4 linked regions of the Homo sapiens genome follow. The protein of the gene in region 4 purifies or fractionates together with the protein of the main gene of each other region. This does not show direct contact. Each region holds a gene or a part of one and is shown on either strand. Other genes may lie near its edges.

Region 1 (5,221 bases), on a different chromosome or scaffold from region 4:
ATTAGCAGGCTTCTAGGAAATCATCAAAATGAATGGAGGCAGAGAGGTCTTCCTGGAAAGCTCTCTGTGCTTTCCACATTCGGAATTTTCTGAATCTAAGCTGCTAACCTGAGGCTTTGGGTTTTGGAAAGCACATGCTACAACAGAGTTATTTAGCAGCAACACAACAAGCAAGGGAGGGATGGTAAGTGTAAAAAAAAAAAAAATCATCTCCATGTTCAGTTCAGAACTATATGCCGTGTGGCTATCCTGAAAAGGGCAGGTGTTCACTTGCCCTCTGGGTAAAAGTTCCCAGTCCTCACCATGAGTCCAAATCTCCTGGGGACCTTTATGAAAAAAATGCAAATGCTGGGACCCCACCCCAGAACCAGTGAATCTGGATCTGGACTCAGGGACAGACCTGGATATAAGCAAGTTATAAGTTCATTAGATGATTTTAATGTGTAGTCAGGGCTGGGAATCCTTGCCTTCTGGAAATCTTGAGGAATTTCAGCTGGTTTGGCCTAACTATTTTGGATATGTTACTTTTCAGGATAGCATTGGGCAGCTGGAGAATGATCTGAGGAACACCAAGAGTGAGATGGCACGCCACCTTCGGGAATACCAGGACTTGCTCAATGTCAAAATGGCTCTTGACATTGAGATAGCAGCTTACAGGTACTGCAAAGGACCTGCTTACCCGAGTAAATCCAGTCACCTAGGGGCAATGCTGCCCAAATAAGTGGATCTAGTCTCTCTGGCTTCTGACTGGTGAGGGAGGGAAGAAGGGCATCACTGGCCCCTTTCAGGTGAGCTGACTGCTCTGTCCCTCTACTTAGATATAATCCAGCTCCATCTGACTAGTCCCAGAGTATTCTGTGTACCTCTGAAAGGATTTAAGGGGATAATGTGAGTACACAGAGGTTAAAATAAAAACCCATGAGACTCGTAACTTTAAAAATAGGGTTTGGGGCCAAGTGCAGTAGCTCACTCCTATAATCCCAGCACTTTGGGAGGCCAAGGTGGGTGGATCACTTGAGATCAGGAGTTCAAGACCAGCCTGGCCAACATGGTGAAACCCAGTCTCTACTAAAAACACAAAAATTGGCCAGGCGTGGTGGCACACACCTGCAGTCCCAGCTACTCTGGAGGCTGAGGCAAGAGAATCGCTTGAACCTGGGAGGTGGAGGTTGCAGTGAGCTGTGATCATGTCACTGCACTCCAGCCTGGGAGACAGTGAGACTCTGTCTAAAAAAAAAAAAAAAAAAAAAGGATAATTAAAAACTATTAAGAGTTATGAGAAACATGGTTTGGGGCCACTCTTTTATAAGACTGTTTTCGTCACGCTGATAAAAATCTGTTATCTGAAACAGTGTCATTCACTGGTTTTTGTTATTGCTGGTTCTATTCCCTTTGTACCCGTATACACTGAAAAAGTACAAATCTCAAATCCAGGTTGAGTAAGACAGTTTCTACCACCTTTGTGGACATCTCACCTCCTTATCCCTATTGCAGCTAAGGTGTTACTTAGGAAAAGTACTTCTCCCTAGAGCTTTGTTGCTAATTGCCAAAAATGGGTGTGATGTGGCCAAGTGGAGTTGCAGGTTTTCCTCCTGGAATATATTTGTGAACAGGATAGGTTTTCCTTTGACAATGCTTTAAACATAGCTGGTGCTGAAGGGGGGTGTGTGTGTGCGCATGCGTATGCACGTGGTCCAACCCTTTGAGCTTTGAAATTAAATATTTATTGGTTTCAATCTCATGAAGAAACTCCAAAGTCCTTTGGAATCTCTCTCAAATGAATCAGGATTGGAGGGTTGAGTTCTGGGGGGGAAAAGTTATTGACTTCCTAAGAGTTTTTCTCTGTTGAATTTACAGGAAACTGCTGGAAGGCGAGGAGACACGTTTTAGCACCAGTGGGTTAAGCATTTCGGGGCTGAATCCACTTCCCAATCCAAGTTACCTGCTCCCACCTAGAATCCTCAGTGCTACAACCTCCAAAGTCTCATCCACTGGGCTATCACTTAAGAAAGAGGAGGAGGAGGAGGAGGCATCTAAGGTAGCCTCTAAGAAAACCTCCCAGATAGGGGAAAGTTTTGAAGAAATATTAGAGGAGACAGTAATATCTACTAAGAAAACCGAGAAATCAAATATAGAAGAAACCACCATTTCAAGCCAAAAAATATAATTCCATTGCTTTGAAAAAGTTAATGCTTAAGAGGGAATGATATGCATTTGACTTGTTAAACAGCCTATTCCTGAACTATAACACCTGCCACCACTATAAAATGTCTTCAAGGCTTCAGTCTCATATTTAGTATTGAATACTTACATTCTCTAATAAGAAAACCACCCCTTAGATTGAAGTAAACTGCAGTCCTGGAGCAATCACAGATGAGTTATCTAAGAATACAGCTTTCTGACCTTCAGCTCACGCTTCACAGTGATCGATGATTCAGGTGCAGAGGAAGTACAAACTAAGGTGCTAAATCTGCGATCATCGTCATTTGCTGTGAACTGAAATTAAAACTATTCATGCTACCCAGCCATTACCCAGCTAAATAATCTTACTCTAGATACCTAAAACATAAGATCACTGCCAGAGATAAACTAATGGTCCACACCCAATTCCACTCTGATAGAATTATTTCACAAATAATAGGTGTTTGTTTAATGGACACTTTTCACCTCCTTCAATTCCATATATCCTTTTCTTCTATGTAGGAAAAAAATAGTCTAGTGTAGTATTCTTCCCTTTTAAACACATTTTGGTTCTTCTCAAAAGAACTTACCCCCATTCGCGCTCTGCTCAGTGGGTAAAATTAGATGCATGTTGACCATGTCTATGATTCGTGTAATTACTTATCCCTGCCCATTTCATATTCTTTCAATTCTGTAGGTTAAAAAAATGGCAGTGATGAATTTTAAGGGTTTCCCCCAACATATAAAATAATGCAAAGAATCCCTAGACTTTAGGCTTTCAGCTTACACAAATCTATTTAATTAGGAAAAAAACTATTAAGGATGTAGCTTTTCACCTTTACTTTAGAAGCACAGTAAATATCCCAAACTGTGATGAAGCCGACCTTAGATTTAGTAGTGTAAGCTAGAAGAAGTGAGTGTTTCTATGAGTGGAAAAAGCCAAGGTGTCATTTATGTGTCAGTTCATTTGTGGTGATATAGAATTAGCTTTTTCATCCCCTTACCCTTAGAATCCACGTATTCCCCTTCCCACTAGCCTAGGTCATAAAGAGGCGTTGCTTTCACTCTCCTATGCCTTTTACGAGTGCTAAGTGTAGGATATTTTGTCACCAGAACACAATGCTACCGCCCCAAAGTAAAAGAAACCACTTCTGGTCAATCAACACTACCAGCGTATATATAAGAAAGACATCTTTCTCTTTTCTAAAAGACTTCCCTAACACTTACCCCATGGCTGCACAGTTGGTGGGGTCCTGCCGGAGAGGAAGAGACACTCAGACCAGAGAAGGGGTGTGCATGCGCCTACTCGCTTGCTAGAAGTAGATTCTGGACAGTCAGCTCTTCATCTGCCCAACTGTGTAGCATCTGCATTGCCCAGTCTTTCATGTGTGCCAAGGCTGATGCAGGATTTGTTCTCTGTCCAGCAGTCACTTCGGCCAGAGCTGAAGAGTTGCCCCGTCTCTGTTCCATGTCTCCTTTAAGAGCTCTGGTGATAAGGACATGATGCTTTTACTGAACTTTCTTATCCTAGCACATGCTTCAATAGTTCAAGGAACTTGAAAAATACTTTTCCTTACCTTTACCCCATCCCTGTCTTTACTCCTCACACTTACTGTAAGACATTAGTAACATAATAAATTAAAAGTCACACGAATCTCACCAACATAATTCGTGTTCTGTGGTTCCTGCCCTTTCACTGAGAGAAGCACTGTTTGGGTTCAGAGTCAGTCTGGCTCTGACTGATTTGTATCTTCTCTTTTTAGTGAGCCACCTTAATTGCCATGAACTTATTTATAGAAGAAAGATATTGGCCAAGCGTGGTGGCTCATGCCTGGAATCCCAACACTTTGGGAGGCCAAGGTGGGGGTGGTGGGGCAGATGGCCTGATCCCAGGAGTTCGAGACCAGCCTGGGCAACATAGGGAGACCTCATCTCTCAAAAAAATACAAAAATTAGCCAACTGTGGTGGCTCCTGTAGTCCCAGCTACTGGGGAGCTGAGGTGGGAGGATCACTTCAGCCCGGGAGGTGGATGCTGCAGTGAGTTGAGATCACGCCACTGCACTCCAGCTTGGGCAACAGAGTGAGACCCTATCTCAAAAAAAAGAAGAGTAACTTACAGAGTTGAAAAATGATTAATTCAGAATAATAGATAACATGGAAAATGTTCAGAATCAAAGCAGAGAGGTCAAGAGAAGGAAAGCAAGTGACATCAACTGTTACCTAAACAAGACAACAAAATGAATCCAAGAGATGAGGGGAAAGCCTTCCTGCAGCATGTGCTAATGATATCCCATATGACTTTCAGATTCATTAGACAATTATATCCCCTGCATCCAGAGACTTCATAATAGCTAAACTTTATTCAGTACCTATTTACTATGTGTCAGACACTATATGAGCTAGTAAACAGAATTGTATAAACCTCACAACTACTCGTTAGGTATAGTATTTGTATCCCCATTTTACAAATGAAGAAGTAGAACCTCAGAATAACAAGGTTAATACCCTGGTCTGATATCACACAGGAAGTGGCAGAGCTGAGCTTTGGACCCTTGTCTTCTGTCTGACTCTACAATACTTGCTTTTCTTCCCTTTTTTTTTTTTTTTTTTTTAATGAGATGGAGTCTTGCTCTGTTGTTCAGGCTGGAGTGCAGTGGCATGATTTCGGCTCACTGCAACCTCCACCTCCTGGGTTCAAGCGATTCTCCTTCCTCAGCCTCCCATGTAGCTGGAACTACAGGTGTGTGCCACCACGCCCAGCTAATTTTTGTATTTTCAGTGGAGACGGGGTTTCATCATGTTGGCCAGGCTGGTCTCGACCTCCTGACCTCAAATGATCCACCCGCCTCGGCCTCCCAAAGTACTGGGATTACAGGCGGGAGCCACCACACCTGGCCCTTATGTTTCCTTTCTACATAAATCCCCTTGCTGAAGGGAGTAGAAGTCTTTCTTTTTATCTTGTTCCACCTCTTTCTCACCATGTTTTACTTAAGGTTTCTCTGTCCCAGAAAACTTTTGCAACACCAAATCCTCCAGGCA
Region 2 (4,814 bases), on a different chromosome or scaffold from region 4:
TTTTGTCTCTGAATTCAGTATAACTGAGTTTTGTCCATGCTGGTGTCTGGGTTATAGGCCTGATGGGCCTGGTAGTTTTCCATCTTGTTCTGGCCTAGAGGTCAGTCCTTTGCACTTCCTCAAAGCTTGTGTACAGTGCTCACCTAAATCCATCTGACTACTTGTTCCTGTGCCCTCTTGTTTTAGGCCTCGTTTACTTTTAAAAAATGAAATTGTTCATTGCTGGGAGAAGAATGTTGTAATTTTTACTTATTAAAGTCAACTTGTTAAGTTTTTTATGTATTCCTGTTGGGTTTTCTTGTTGATCTCATGCTAGCAGAGCAAAAATTGTAAAATATTTTGATTAAAAATCTAGGGACCTTTATGTCCTATTTGAAATGTGATGCTTTTATGTTTGTTTTCTGGTTTTTACATTTTTGTTCTGTATCTTACACAATCCACCTTGGGCCCTGTCATCTGATGTGAGATCAAGTACTCAGAGGCAGTGATTACCACAAAACCACTGATCTCTAGAAGAACAGAGAAGGAGAGGGTTAATGTATTTATACATAGTGGGCCTGGCAGGAGCGGGGGGCAGGGTGAGTCGGGAGAACGAAGCTGAGGGTGGGGACATGCAGGAATCTGAAGGCCTTGGTGACAGATTAGTGGAAGAAAGGTCTAGGGTTGCTTCCGATTTGGTATTAAGAACCAAGAAAGAGGCCGGGTGCAATGGCTCACACCTATAATCCCAGTGCTTTGGGAGGCTGAGGCGGGCAGATCACCCGAGGTCAGGAGTCTGAGACCAGCCTGGGCCAACATGGCAAAACCCATCTCTACTACAAATACAAAAATTAGCCAGGTGTGGTGGCGTGTGCCTGTAATCCCAGCTACTCGGGAGGCTGAGGCAGGAGAATCCCCTGGAACCTGGGAGGTGGAGGTTGCAGTGAGCCGAGATCCTGCCACTGCACTCCAGCCTGGCAAAACAGACTGTCTCAAAAAAAAAAAAAAAAAAAAAAAAAAAAAAGCGCTCTTGGATGCAGCGAGGCGAGGCCCTGAGCTGTAGCCATATCATGAGCCAGGCATGCAGGGTGGGCCCCAGCCCTGGCTCAGCGACCGGCCTCCACTGTACCACGGGACCCCAGGCTTGGATTTTCTCTCGTTCTAAATATGTGCCCACAATGAGCGCTCCACTAGCTACAACAACCTTAAGGGTGTTTTTCTACATGGGCACTAGCCAGTAGAGCCCTGCAGTGGGGGCAGAGAATGGGGACTCTTCCAGGGCACCAGTGTTTATCATCTGAACACAAGAGAGGCATCTTGTGTTAATGCTGTTGTCCAGGAGCTTAAGTGAAATGGGCCACATTTCTTTTTGTGTGGAAACCCAGAGTTACAAGGTCATTGGCATTTCAACACAGCATTTTTATTGCTTTTGAAGGTTTCCCTAGAGCAGACATCATTCTATTGCACAGATGTGTCATTTTGGCATTATAGAAAGTTGCAGTTAAAAACGCTTTCTCCAAAATAAAAAGACAAATGAAATACCCAGCATATACAGTTGAAGGCAAAGGAGGGCAGGCTTTAGAGGGATGGGGTCCATTGCTTTTGCTGTGCATCACCCTTGATTAGCAGTTACATTTTGGTAGTACTTCTTACCCCCAATTTCTAGAAATCCTTTTCAAATCCAGATCAGTGGGGCCCCATCTATCAGGAGAATCAACCCTTCAGGAGCCTGAGCAAGAAGACTGAACCTTACTGGCTGAATTAGGATAGCTGCAGAGAGCTGGAAGCTGACACAAAACTAGTTGGAGCAGCCCTGTTTGTCTTAAAGCAAGGCGGGTGGAATTCCAAATGCTGGAGAGGGGCATACAGTGGGTTCCCCCATTCTACAAGCTTAGTAAACCCAGGAGACAGGCACCCACTGTGGAGAACTGCACGCTTGGTCGAAGGCTTCTTGTAATTTCTTAAGGGTTTCATCAACACCATTATTGACCAGTGAGAGGTCAAAGTAGTGAGCGTACTGGCTGCGGATGGCCTCAGAGTCCTTCTGCAGCTGCTGCAGGGCTTCTGTCTGCAAAGAAGAAAGCCACAGATGAAGCAAGCTGCACCACCCCCAGCCCAGAGAGGCCAGTGACAGATTTTAAACAGCAATTGTTAGCGTTGCTCAGCTGTGCATCATACTTGACGAGTCAAATTCAGAAGACATTGTGAAAGAATGTTAATGTAGGGCATGAAGAGGCAATCTCAAAAGACCATGGCAATTCTCAGAGGATCTCAAGCTAACCCTGACTAATCAGAGTCCTCTGGAGGACCAATAGCTATGCAGAGACAGCATGGACTTCACCAGCATCTCCCACTTAATGCCCTTTGAACATGGAAGAGCCATTTCAACAACCACCAGAGCTGCAATCCTAAAACGAAGATAAAGGTGATTTTGTTGTTTTGTTTTGTTTTGAGACAGTGTCTTGCTCTGTGGCCCAGGCTGGAGTGCAGTGGCACAATCTCGGCTCACTGCAACCTCCGCCTCCCGGGTTCAAGCAATTCTCGTGTCTCAGCCTCCCGAGTAGCTGGGATTACAGGCATGCGCCACCACATCTGGCTAATTTTTGTATTTTTAGTAGAGACAGGGTTTTGCCATGTTGGCCAGGCTGGTCTGGAACTTTAGACCTCAGGTGATCCGCCCGCCTCGGCCTCTCAAAGTGCTGGGATTACAGGTGTGAGCCACTGCACCCAGTCAGATAAAGGTGACTTCTAATCCCAGATCACACCTGTAATCCCAGCACTTTGGAAGGCCAAGGCAGGATGATTGCTTGAGCACAGGAGTTCAAGACCAGCCTGGCAACACAGTGAGACCCCATTTCTACAAAAAACAAAATTTAAAAATGTGTGTGTATATATATCTCAGGACTCTGTCTTTGACCTAAAACCAAGCAGCCATGAAAGACAAATCATGTAACTACATAAAAGTAAAAATGTCTGCATAGCAAAAAGACATGCCAAATTGGAAAAAAATTGCAGCTGATATTACAAAGGGCTAATTACCCTAATATAGACTTCCTATAAATCAAAGGTCAATAACTCAGCAGAAAAATGAGCTAAGGGTATGACCAGATAATTCTCAGAAAAGGCAATACAAATTGCTCTTCATATGAAAAAGTACCTGATCATCTCTTTTAGTAAAAAAGAAATATGAGATACTATTTTTCCCTCCAGTAGACTGGCAAAAAAAGAAAATTTTGACAACATGCTGCAGGCAAAGAGAAACAAGCAGTCTCACAGGTGGTTGGCGGTCCCTGTCCAAATTCTAAGTGTGTGTGCTCTTGGACCCAGTGATCCTACTTGGAGTTTTTCCTACAGATATATTTGCACACATGTGCTATATGCACAGGGCTATTGACTGCAGTATTACACATGCATGCAGCAGAAGACCAAGCAGCTATAGAGAAAAAGAGTTCCTCACACCCTGATAGGGAAAGGTGTCCATTGTTCAATGCAAAAGCACAGTGCAGCAAAGTGCATGGGTAGGGCTGGGCAGAGGAGCAGGGTAGGCTTTTTGATATATTCCTGGCCTCTCTGTCTTTCCCCACAGCCATACTGCACCCCAGGGCGGGTTCAGTGCCACCTCTGTCCATCACAGCTTCCCCTGCCAGAGCCTGCATCCCACCAGTATCAGGATCTGCTCAACTGTCCATCTCTGCCCCTGGAACTGTGTGCCTCCAGGACGATGACTGGGTCTGGTTTGTTTTGTCCCTGTTAGGTAGCATGGGCACTGGCCTAGCTAGTGGCTTAAGAGCTGGAACGAATGTGCATACCCTTTGGCTTCTTGGCCCTGGAGGAAGAAGCCCAGCTGGAGCTGTGACCTCCAGCCAGCACTCTGGCCAATGACCTGGACTGAGGTCCCAGTATGGGCAGGCCCGGAGAAAGTGAACTACCCATCGCGCACAACCTCTCCTCACCTGAGTGCCCTGGTCAGTAGGTGCAATGAACACAATGAAAGGCGAAAGTTCTGCTGTCCGAACAATTTTCAGGGTCTAGAAAAAAAAAAGAAGGGCGGCGGGGAGGGGGGGGAAGGAAGAAAAGGAAAGTGAAAAAAAAAAACCTACATAGCTGTCATAATGGATTCCTTCTAATAAGCAGCTTTGAGCTTTACCCCAATACAACTTTCCATCATTCCCAGTACTACTGTTCTTGTTCCAGGCTGACCCCATTAAAAGGCTGAAGCAATCCTGAGCCCCCAGAAGATTCCCAAGGAGCACTGTCTTCGCCATCCCTTGTGTGGCTGAGCCCATCTGTCCCTGCCCTTCCATGCCTACCCACCTGGGGCTCAATGTCAAGGATGGCAATCTTGTTCTGCTTATGGATCTGGTGCACTGTTTCAAATTTGGTGCCAAACATGTTGCCTTGGTAGCTGCCAAACTCCAAGAACTCATTGGCAGAGATGTTCCTCGTCATCTCCTCCGTTGAGATAAAGTGGTACTCCTTCCCATCTTCCTCACTCTTCCTTGGCGGCCGTGTTGTATCTGTGTACAAGAACCCAAATCCCCGACAAACTCCAGGTCCTCACCCTTTCATGAGGGCTTGGACCATGGTGTCTGTATGGAAACCCTAGCTGCCTTTGGTGCATTGACTTTAATACAGGGGTTCCTCCCGTGGGCTCCTGAAGAGCTGATGCTAGAAAGTGATGCACACCAGGAAATCCCTCCATCTGCCCAGGACACATTTAATTTTTAAGGGGCAAAGCCTAACATAGAAAATTCCTATTATCATTTTCCCTAAATGAAGTTACATCTCTCAAACTACCAAATCTAGGAATATTGAAACTTAGAAATGAAGATAGC
Region 3 (5,012 bases), on a different chromosome or scaffold from region 4:
TTAAAAACAGTAGAATGCTTAAGCCATTGAAATTTATCACCTCCCCACAATTCATCTTCCCTTTTCTAATAATCCTCTCCTCTTCTTTCACTGAACTATATAAATCTGTCTCTCCCTATCTAAATTTTTGAGACTCTTTCCACCTTCACAAACAGAAGATATAATGGAAACAGACAGTACTCATTATAGTCAGCTCCACTAGGGTAGGAAAATCTGCAACCTAGAGACTAATGTTTTTCACATGGCTCAAAGTTTCAATATATGCAATGTATAAAAACTCGGACGATATTAACTCCTAACAGTTAATATTTTTCAGCAACATCTGCTGTTCTGCTTTTACTTTGAATGGAAGTTTTGCCCAGCATGTATCCAGAGTGGGAACAAAATTATTGTTCCCATTCTGAGTTTAAAAGACCATTTAATCCTATATAGATTTTCTTCTATCACTGTGATGGTTAATTTTATATGTTAACTTGACTGGGCCTCAGGGTGCCATATATTTGGTTAAACATTAACTTGGGTGTGTCTTTGAGGGCGTTTCTGAATCAATAAACTGAGTATAGCAGATTGCCCTCCCCAGTGTGGGTGGACCTCATCCAATCCATTGAAGGCCTGATGAGAACAAAAAGGCAAAGTAAGAGAGAACTGTCTTTGAACTGGGACATGGGTCCTCTCCTTTCTTTGGATGTGGACTGGAACTTATGCTATTGTCTCTTCTGGTTCTTAGCTCTTTGGATTTGGACTGGAACTGTACCATGGGCTCTCCTTGGTCTCTAGCTTGTTGACTACAGATCCTGGGACTTCTCAGCCTCCATAACCCCATGGGCTAATTCCTTAAAATAAATCTCCTATTTATTCTGTTTCTTTGAAGAATCCAGTCTAATACAATCACTTACTCAAAATCCTGAGCCTCTGTCACCCCTCTTTTCCTTTTAAGCTTCTGATTTAATTTTCCAAGTTTATTATTTAAATGGCAGTAGCCCTGTGACACAGATACACAGCTATATGAAAAAGGAACAAAATTCTCATGTTTTGCTTCAGGAATAAAACTTTAAAGATAAAGGTAGGCTTAAGATATAAGCCCAAACATGTACTGAAAAATGTTTAATAAATGTATTGCTGAACTAATTTTAATTGTCATATTACTATTTTGAAATAAATAAAACCAATATTTCATTTAACTACAATTTGATTCTGAATAAGCAATCCCAAATCCAAAAATTAAGTTTTAGAACTTTTCCTAATCTAAGCTGAGCCTGATTAATATTTACAAAAAAAAATTATTAAAAGAAAACATAATATCATTAGATAATTTTAACTACACATGAACAAAGGATAGAAGGCTCAAGGTACTAGAGAAAATTCACTGCAGATGTTTCATATAGAAAGTACATTTATTGCATGTTTTAATATTTACATGCCTTTACATAACTCAAACACACATCAGATGTGTAATTAGGAAAATATATGAGGAATAACTCATCCATCTAAAACCTGATCAATGTATCCAGAGACCTGCAATAATTTTAAAATCATCAGTTTGTATATATATATATATTTTTGAGACGGAGTTTTTTGCTCGTCACCCAGGCTGGAGTGCAGTGGTACGATCTTTGGCTTACTGCAACCTCTGCCTCCCAGGTTCAAGTGATTCTCCTGCCTCAGTCTCCCAAGTAGCTGGGATTACAAGCACAGGCCACCATGCCCGGTTAATTTTTATATTTTTAGTAGAGACAGGGTTTTGCCATGTTGGCCTGGCTGGTCTCAAACTCCTGACCTCAGGTGATTTGCCTGCCTTGGCCTCCCAGAAGTGCTGAGATTACAGGCATGAGCGAGCCACTGTGCCCAGCCATCAGTTTGTATTTTAAGGCAGAATTACTTGAAATTTAGTCAATAGGCTGCCTAGAATCAGGTCAATTGAAAAGGAAGCTATTTTGAGTTTTTAACAACAAAAAATTATTTGGCTTTCATTTTATACATCAAGGTGGCAGAATACAATTTTGTCACATCATTTGAAAAAAACATTCTTTTACTAGAATCTAACAAAGTATCAGTCTCAAGACTAAAGTTAAAAAGCAATCGACAGAAGTCTATACCTGAAAGGCCTGAATTCTCTATTTAATGACGACAAGGCAATTAGATGAGGGCATTCATCTTCATACTCGTCAGAGCCAGCAGGGACTCCTCCTTGAACTCTCTGACCATCTTGCCTGTTGTAATTTTCAGTTCTGTTTTTCTCCTCAGAAAATTCAGTTACAGAGTTGTTTTCAACAACCTGCCCTTTTATTTCTTCTAAAGCTTGATTGAATTCAGTCATTTCAAAACTCCGTGCATCAGCACTCTCTTCTGATAAACTGTCTTCCTTTATTTGTTCAGGGTCTCCAGATGATCTGCAATAGCAGCCCTCTGATTCTTCTAGACAGTTCCGTTCACTTTCATTTTCTGACCCGTAAACCTCTGCTTTTTCTGCCACTTCTCCATCTGAAAATGAGAATTCAGATCCCTCTTTTGTTTCAATATTTTTATCATCTGGACCTAATGGATGAAGCAGTTCATCATCTGCCTGCATTTCCTTTGTGTAGCCACTGGCAGAAACCTCCACATCAAGAGTGTCTTCTCTCCTAGAAAAAAAAGGCGTCAAGCATAGAAAGAGAGAAAAAATGTTTATCTAAGAGGAGCAAATATCTACTACTCTGATAAATTATGATTCAAGTGAGTTTAATAGCTTATATGTTAAAAATAAATTTTCCTTCCCTAAAATGTAATATTTAAATGACACAGGTAAACAAATATGAAAGGTATATGCTGGCTGTCATTTTAAGAATAAAATAACTGAAAAGCAACAATATAAATAAAAAGGTTATAAAAACCTCAGCTTATGTTTATTAACTTTGTAAATTAACTTTCAAAGGGGGCTAAGGATTTCCTTCAGATTATGTGACTCATCCCAGATCAGAAAATATCTTAAGTGTATAAAATAAATATGAGAAAACTGAGCTTTGAGAATGCACATGATAGTTATGTTTTGAGAATCAATTAAAGATACCTCCTGGTCCTTGATAAAGGAAAAACACAAATTTCAATGAATGTTTGGTGTTATTCCTTATGAATGAGTTACTCAAATAGCATCCAAAATAGAATAAAAGTTCTTGAATTTATAAGAATCTAGATATGTCCGCTTCCTAAAATTCAGTAACAGTGCCTTAATGGACCAAATGCAGGTATTTTCAAGTTTTTAAGTTTCAGTTATGTACTACAGAGCAATGACATCTAACAGTGATTACGTGTCAAAATTTGGAAAGTTTTTTAGATGAAAATGTTAATTTTTAGAAATACACAGACCAGATATTTAAACTGTTCTATTATGTAAAGCAATGGGGAGTACAAACCTGATATCCTTAAAAGTTGGAAAAAGCTCACTTTCGTAGCTGAAACGTTTCATAAAGAAATCTTTAATGCATTTAACATCTCTGTCAAAATACCTGCAAAAGCAAGAATCATTTATGATATAGTCTTTATTGCTCCTCTTTTTCCTTATTAGCCAATGACAATATACTTATTGGTTAATGGTATTGCTCCTCCTTACACAAGGAGATAAAAGATGTTACACAAAAGAAAAAAGATACAAATGAGTTAACCAGTGTGTTTGAAAAACTAAAATCCAAGGAAATCTCAAGGATATAAGCTGTCAATGCCATGCAGTTCCTACGGTTAGGAAAGTCAAGGTTTTGTCATAGTTACTGGTATATAGTTAGATACACTAGGGAAAGATGAATGTGAACCCCAGGAAATAAGATAATGGGCCTATGGTTTGGGGATAGGTTTCCACTTATTCTGTTCGTCCTGAGTCTGGCTATGCTTCTTATCAGCAACACTCACTAGAACCCCTAGCCAACTGAAAGATCTGACGATAAAAAGATATTAATATTAAACAGTTAAGTTTGGAGACTACTGAATTATGTTTATGTATCTTTGTTATCCATTAGCCGATTTGCAATAACACCCAAAGGGATAAATAATGCTACAGCCTATAAAAATAATCTGAGGACATGTTAATCTGGACCAAAAGTAGAACAATATCTGAATATCAGGCTGCCTTTTTGGGCCACCACAAAGCAGCAAAAATGGATTCAATTCTCTAGAAGATTTCCAGACAAGGGAGAATTAAGGACAGGATAATGTGCAATTGACTCTCTTTGAGAAAGATGAAGTTTGGAAATAGGAAGATAATGCCTCTCCTCTTTGCTCACAGGGTACTCTGGGAAAAATACTAATACATTTTAAAAAGACTATTTTATATATGTTTACATCTCCCTACGAGACAGTAACATTTTCTAAAGCATATATAGGGGTTATTTATATCTCAATCTCTAGCAATTAGCACAGCTCCTTGGCCCCAGAACTGGTTCATAAAAATTGAAATTAAATCACAATGTCTCTCCATAGAACGATGCAGCCTAAACCTAGAATGTCATAATCTGTCACACTCTGGAGGCTCCTAGATGTTCCTTTACTGTGTGACTATGTTACTCCTTATTAATAAAAATCATGATTAGTCATCATCCAAAGAGTACTGACCACCCCAGTGCCAGGCATTAATCTTTTAGTATTATTTTGTTGAAAACGTTTTAAAAATTTATTTTCAAATGACATTTCTTTCTGTAGCATAAGTATAGACATTTTCTACTGGAAACCAGGATGAAGAGACGCTTCACTTAACAAAACTACTTCAAGCTCAATCTCTGGAAGAATTAATATACTCTATTATATAAGTGATACTAGTTGTTAGTTTAGGAAAAAAGTTTCTCATAAAGCTTGGAACAGAAAGAAAAAAAAATCCTTAGTTACACTCAATTGAATCATAAACCTCAAGCAAATAAAGGATAAGGTCCTGTTTCATGACTTGGCTGGCTTGGTTTAAATAAGTAATGTGAAGAATATGATTATCGCAGTATATCATGATTCTGCACTGTGTCAGAGATAAAGTTTTATGTGATTTTTTTTCTAATAAA
Region 4 (5,012 bases):
CTTTCCATCTTTTTTTTTTTTTTTTTTTTTTTTGAGACGGAATCTTGCTCTGTCACCCAGGCTGGAGTGCAGTGGCACGACCTTGGCTCACTGTAACCTCTGTCACCCAAGTTCAAGCAATTCTCCTGCTTTGCCTCCCGAGTAGCTGGGACTACAGGCGCCCGCCACCATGCCCAGCTAGTTTTTTGTATTTTTAGTAGAGATGGGGTTTCACTGTGTTAGCCAGGATGGTCTCAATCTCCTGACCTTGTGATCTGCCCGCCTCGGCCTCCCAAAGTGCTGGGATTACAGGTGTGAGCCACCACAACAGGCCTCTTTCCATCTATTTTGTTTGTTTTTGTTTTTGGAGGCAGGGTCTCATCTCACTCTGTCACCCAGGCCAGAGTGCAGTAGTGTCATCATAGCTCACTATAGCCTTGACCTCTGGGCTCAAGGGATCCTCCTGCCTCAGCCTCCAGAGTAGCTGGGACCACTGGTGTGCACCACCACGCCTGTTGAATTTTTAAAATTTTTGTAGACTTGGGGTCTTGCTATGTTGCCCAGGCTGGTCTTGGACTCCTGGCCTCAAGTAGTCCTTCCACCTCGACCTCCCTAAGTGCTGGGATTACAGGCGTGAGCCCGTACCTCCATCTCCTTTTGTCTCGTTTCCATCTCCCTTCCTCTCCTTTTCTCTTTCGCCTTCAGTCACTAACCCTGACATGGTCTCTGAGCTGCGTGCCATTCAGTTCAGTGCTCTGGTTGGCTCCTGCCTTGGTGGCAGGAGGTTGGGGGCAGGGAGGAGCAGCTGCCCTCCTGTCCCCTACCTTGGCCTCACCATCCCATCCCCTGCCCAGAGTGATCGGGGTGAGTACCGCACAGAAGAGGGCCTGGTAAAGGGACACGCGTATTCCATCACGGGCACACACAAGGTAAGTGTCCCCCATGGGTGGGGTGGCAGGCCATGTCCAGGCATCACCCCCACTGACGATGCTGCCCCAGGTGTTCCTGGGCTTCACCAAGGTGCGGCTGCTGCGGCTGCGGAACCCATGGGGCTGCGTGGAGTGGACGGGGGCCTGGAGCGACAGGTGGGATGGGTCTGGGGTGGGTGTGGGGCTGGACCCCACCTGCCCGCCCCTCACACCACAGTCTCTCCAGCTGCCCACGCTGGGACACACTCCCCACCGAGTGCCGCGATGCCCTGCTGGTGAAAAAGGAGGATGGCGAGTTCTGGTCAGTTCGTCAGGGTCCCAGCTCTGCCTCTGGGAGGGTCTCTGCCAAGGGGTTCAGGGAGGGCGAGCCCCAGTTGAAGGATGGGTCCTAATAGGGAGAAACTGTGTACATCGGTGGTAATTTTGGGGCCAGGTTCTATTTTGGGAAATCAAGGAAGAATTGGTAGTAATATTAGAGAACCTCTGATTGGAGTGGGTTTAAAAAAGTAGTAATATGAGGGGAATTTGAAGGCCTAGTTATCTGTGGAGGATTGAAAGGGATGGGCAGTATTTAGGGCAATGGAGGAAGGCTTGGTGATATTTGGGGCATTTCTTGAGATTTGGCAATGTTGAGGGGCTGAAGGGTACTTGTTGGTAATTTAGAGTCTGAGGGTCTTGCTATTTGGGGGTTGGTGGCAATTTAACGATATTTGGGGGCAGCTTGTGAATCTTGGCGATTTGTGGGGCATGTCTGAGGACTTGGAGGAATTTGGCAGAGCTAGAGGCCCAGGCATTTGGGGTTCATTTCTGGAGCCTGAAGGGTATTTGACAATATTTAAGAAATGTGAGGGGCTTTGGGATCTGGGAGTCATTTCCGGGATCTTGGGACCCCCTCGAGGTGGGGCCGGGCAGGGTCTGACTGGGCCACCGTGCAGGATGGAGCTGCGGGACTTCCTCCTCCATTTCGACACCGTGCAGATCTGCTCGCTGAGCCCGGAGGTGCTGGGCCCCAGCCCGGAGGGGGGCGGCTGGCACGTCCACACCTTCCAAGGCCGCTGGGTGCGTGGCTTCAACTCCGGCGGGAGCCAGCCTAATGCTGGTGAGGCCTGAGGGGCCCTGAGAGGCTTCCTGGGGTGGGGGGCGCTGTGGCCGGCTAGGAAACCCCCTTTTTTCCTCCTCCCTTAGAAACCTTCTGGACCAATCCTCAGTTCCGTTTAACGCTGCTGGAGCCTGATGAGGAGGATGACGAGGATGAGGAAGGGCCCTGGGGGGGCTGGGGGGCTGCAGGGGCACGGGGCCCAGCGCGGGGGGGCCGCACGCCCAAGTGCACGGTCCTTCTGTCCCTCATCCAGCGCAACCGGCGGCGCCTGAGAGCCAAGGGCCTCACTTACCTCACCGTTGGCTTCCACGTGTTCCAGGTGAGGTCCTGGGCAAAGCTGAGGCTGGAGGGAACCCGGAGGGTGGAGGGGCGGGGCCGGGCCAAGGAGCGGGGGAGGCATGGAGGGGCGGGGCCAGTGGGAAGAGGGGAGGTGTGGAGGGCGGGGCCAAGGGGGAAGAGGGGGAGTGGTGGAGGGGTGGGACTGAAGAGGATCGGGGAGGAGGGGAGGAGTGGAGGAGCAGGGCCAAGAGGGGGCGGCGCTGGGAGGGGAGTAGGGGGCTAGTAGGGCTGGGGGGCCAGGTCTCAGAGGGGAGAGGGAGCTAAGGGAATGAGAGGGAGGGGCTCAGGGACAGACAGAGGGACGAGGTTAGGGACAGAGAGAGGCTGGGGGTTAGAAGGGCCAGAGGGGACCAAGGATACAGAGAAGGCGCTGGGAGCGCAGATGGGGAAGGAAGAGTTGGGGAGGGGTCGGCGAGGGCCTGGGTCGGGGACTGCGGGGCAAAGGTTCAATAAGGGTCTAATAGGACGAAGAAGGAGGGAGAGAGCACAGAGGTGAGAAGGGGCAGGGAGGAGACCCTGAGCGGCGGCCACCTCTCCCCTGCCCCGACGCCCCTTGCTCTTGCTTCTTTCAGATTCCAGAGGAGGTGAGTCTGGGATGGGGTCAACCGGCCCTGGGGCTTGGTCAACCTGCCCTGGGGCTTGGTCAACCTGCCCTGGGGCTTGGTCAAACTGCCCTGGGGGTGGGGGGGCAGAGCCGGGTCCGGGGGCAGGGGAGGCGTGGACAGGGGTTAGGCAGGGTGGACGGGGCGCGCTGGAGGGTGCGGGGATGAAGGGCCGGGGGTGAGCCTGGTCCGTGGTCATGCCGCCCCGTCCCCAGCTGCTGGGCCTCTGGGATTCCCCGCGCAGCCATGCGCTCCTGCCCCGGCTGCTGCGCGCCGACCGCTCGCCCCTCAGCGCCCGCCGCGACGTGACCCGCCGCTGCTGCCTGCGTCCAGGCCACTACCTGGTGGTGCCGAGCACCGCCCACGCCGGCGACGAGGCTGACTTCACTCTGCGTGTCTTCTCCGAGCGCCGCCACACGGCCGTGTGAGCCCCGGGCACCCAAATCCGACCCCATCCCTGCCTAGACAGGCCCCGAGACCCCCGAGACCCCCGAGACCCCCGAGACCCCCGAGACCCCCGAGACCTGACCTGCCCCGCCCCCAGAACCCCTGCCCCGCCCCGCCCCGCCCCCAGAACCCCCGCCCCGCCCCGCCCCCAGAACCCCCGCCCCGCCCCGCCCCGCCCCCAGAACCCCCGCCCCGCCCCGCCCCGCCCCGCCCCGCCCGCAGAACCACCGCCCCGCCCCGCCCCGCCCCCAGAACCCCCGCCCCGCCCCCAGAACCCCCGCCCCGCCCCGCCCCCAGAACCCCCGCCCCGCCCCGCCCCCAGAACCCCCGCCCCGCCCCCAGAACCCCCGCCCCGCCCCCAGAACCCCCGCCCCGCCCCCAGAACCCCCGCCCCGCCCCCAGAACCCCCGCCCCGCGAGGATGAGCCCAGGGCTCCACGGTCCCTACCTAGACCCCACGCGATTCCTCACCTGAGACCCCGTCCCACACAGCCCCAGCTGGGGCAAACAGCCCCCTCCCCACTTCCCATCTGTAATTTGCAGGGAGATCGACGACGTGATCAGCGCAGACCTGCAGTCTCTCCAGGTGGGGACTGTTCCTGGAGGGGCGGCATGGGGCGGGGATCTTGGCCAGCGCTAAACTTCCGCCATGCGGCAGGGCCCCTACCTGCCCCTGGAGCTGGGGTTGGAGCAGCTGTTTCAGGAGCTGGCTGGAGAGGTGAGGAGGGGGATTGGACTGAGGGGGTATCCCGCTGCGGCCTCCCCTTGGGGACCCCCCTTCCCCCACCCCAGCATCTCAGGTGTCTCATTTTGCTTGCTTTTTCCTCCCTCCGGGCTTAAATCTCCTGACCTTTTCTTGAAATGCTCACAGCTCCTCCCTGCCTCAGGGCCTTGGGCTCAGTCCATACCCTCTCCCAGGACCACCCTCTCCCTCCTGACACCTCCAGCCAGGCTCAGGTCTCATCTAAGGTGCCCAGCCCTGGAAGCTCTCCCTGACCACCCCCCTGCCCCAGGCCGGTCTGCTGGCCCCCCACCAGCAACCACAGCCCAGTGCTTCCCCCGTCACAGCCCTGGCCCTGTGGGGACAGGTCTGTCTCCCCCACTCCTGGAGCTAGGGCTCTGAGGCTCTGTCAGCCCCTGCCGTGTCCCTAGCACAGGGCTTGGCCCAGAGCAGCTGGATGAGTAAATGGCCTCACAAGCCCTCTTTCCTGGACTAGGAGGAAGAACTCAATGCCTCTCAGCTCCAGGCCTTACTAAGCATTGCCCTGGAGCCTGGTGAGTTGGCTGGGATAGGGGCAGGAGGAGGGGTCTTAGCCAGGGGTCCTGCAACCAGAGCCGGTGCCACCCTATGTCTATGAACCCACCGCGCTGCTGGGAGTTGGGCTCAGGAAGCCAGGGCTCAGCCTGGCAGCATCTCCCTGCAGGGGATCTTGTGTGGGCCCCGTGACCTGGGCCACGGCTGCTCGCAAGCTCCCCTTCCGCTGAAAGGCAAGGCTGCCTTGAGCACAGACTGGGCACCCCCTGCCTGGATTTGAATCCCAGCTCTGCTAGGCGCAGCAGTCACTGGCTCCCTGTGCCTCGGCTTCTATAATATGGGACTGACAACATCACCTGCTTA

Evidence for each region.
Region 1: the proteins of CAPN12 (region 4) and INA purify together in Homo sapiens (affinity purification with mass spectrometry; one large-scale study listed by BioGRID and IntAct). This does not show direct contact.
Region 2: the proteins of CAPN12 (region 4) and MPP1 purify together in Homo sapiens (affinity purification with mass spectrometry; one large-scale study listed by BioGRID and IntAct). This does not show direct contact.
Region 3: the proteins of CAPN12 (region 4) and RIOK2 purify together in Homo sapiens (affinity purification with mass spectrometry; one large-scale study listed by BioGRID and IntAct). This does not show direct contact.

The regions. Positions count from the first base shown.
Region 1 is NC_000010.11:103,286,503-103,291,723, forward strand, and holds the end of INA (alpha-internexin), read left to right. Parts: intron 1-532; coding exon 533-657; intron 658-1,857; coding exon 1,858-2,167; 3' UTR 2,168-3,844; downstream 3,845-5,221. UniProt on the Homo sapiens protein: Class-IV neuronal intermediate filament that is able to self-assemble. It is involved in the morphogenesis of neurons.
Region 2 is NC_000023.11:154,777,307-154,782,120, forward strand, and holds the end of MPP1 (55 kDa erythrocyte membrane protein), read right to left. Parts: intron 4,497-4,814; coding exon 4,294-4,496; intron 4,008-4,293; coding exon 3,933-4,007; intron 2,048-3,932; coding exon 1,871-2,047; 3' UTR 1,378-1,870; downstream 1-1,377. UniProt on the Homo sapiens protein: Essential regulator of neutrophil polarity. Regulates neutrophil polarization by regulating AKT1 phosphorylation through a mechanism that is independent of PIK3CG activity.
Region 3 is NC_000005.10:97,165,371-97,170,382, forward strand, and holds part of RIOK2 (serine/threonine-protein kinase RIO2), read right to left. Parts: intron 3,483-5,012; coding exon 3,390-3,482; intron 2,622-3,389; coding exon 2,097-2,621; coding exon of another isoform or gene 2,069-2,096; exon of another isoform or gene 1,376-2,068; intron 1-1,375. UniProt on the Homo sapiens protein: Serine/threonine-protein kinase involved in the final steps of cytoplasmic maturation of the 40S ribosomal subunit. Involved in export of the 40S pre-ribosome particles (pre-40S) from the nucleus to the cytoplasm.
Region 4 is NC_000019.10:38,734,470-38,739,481, reverse strand, and holds part of CAPN12 (calpain-12), read left to right. Parts: exon of another isoform or gene 1-833; coding exon 834-908; exon of another isoform or gene 909-978; coding exon 979-1,064; exon of another isoform or gene 1,065-1,134; coding exon 1,135-1,209; exon of another isoform or gene 1,210-1,843; coding exon 1,844-2,007; exon of another isoform or gene 2,008-2,093; coding exon 2,094-2,326; exon of another isoform or gene 2,327-2,918; coding exon 2,919-2,930; exon of another isoform or gene 2,931-3,163; coding exon 3,164-3,372; intron 3,373-3,937; coding exon 3,938-3,980; coding exon of another isoform or gene 3,981-4,052; coding exon 4,053-4,112; intron 4,113-4,611; coding exon 4,612-4,669; intron 4,670-5,012. UniProt on the Homo sapiens protein: Calcium-regulated non-lysosomal thiol-protease.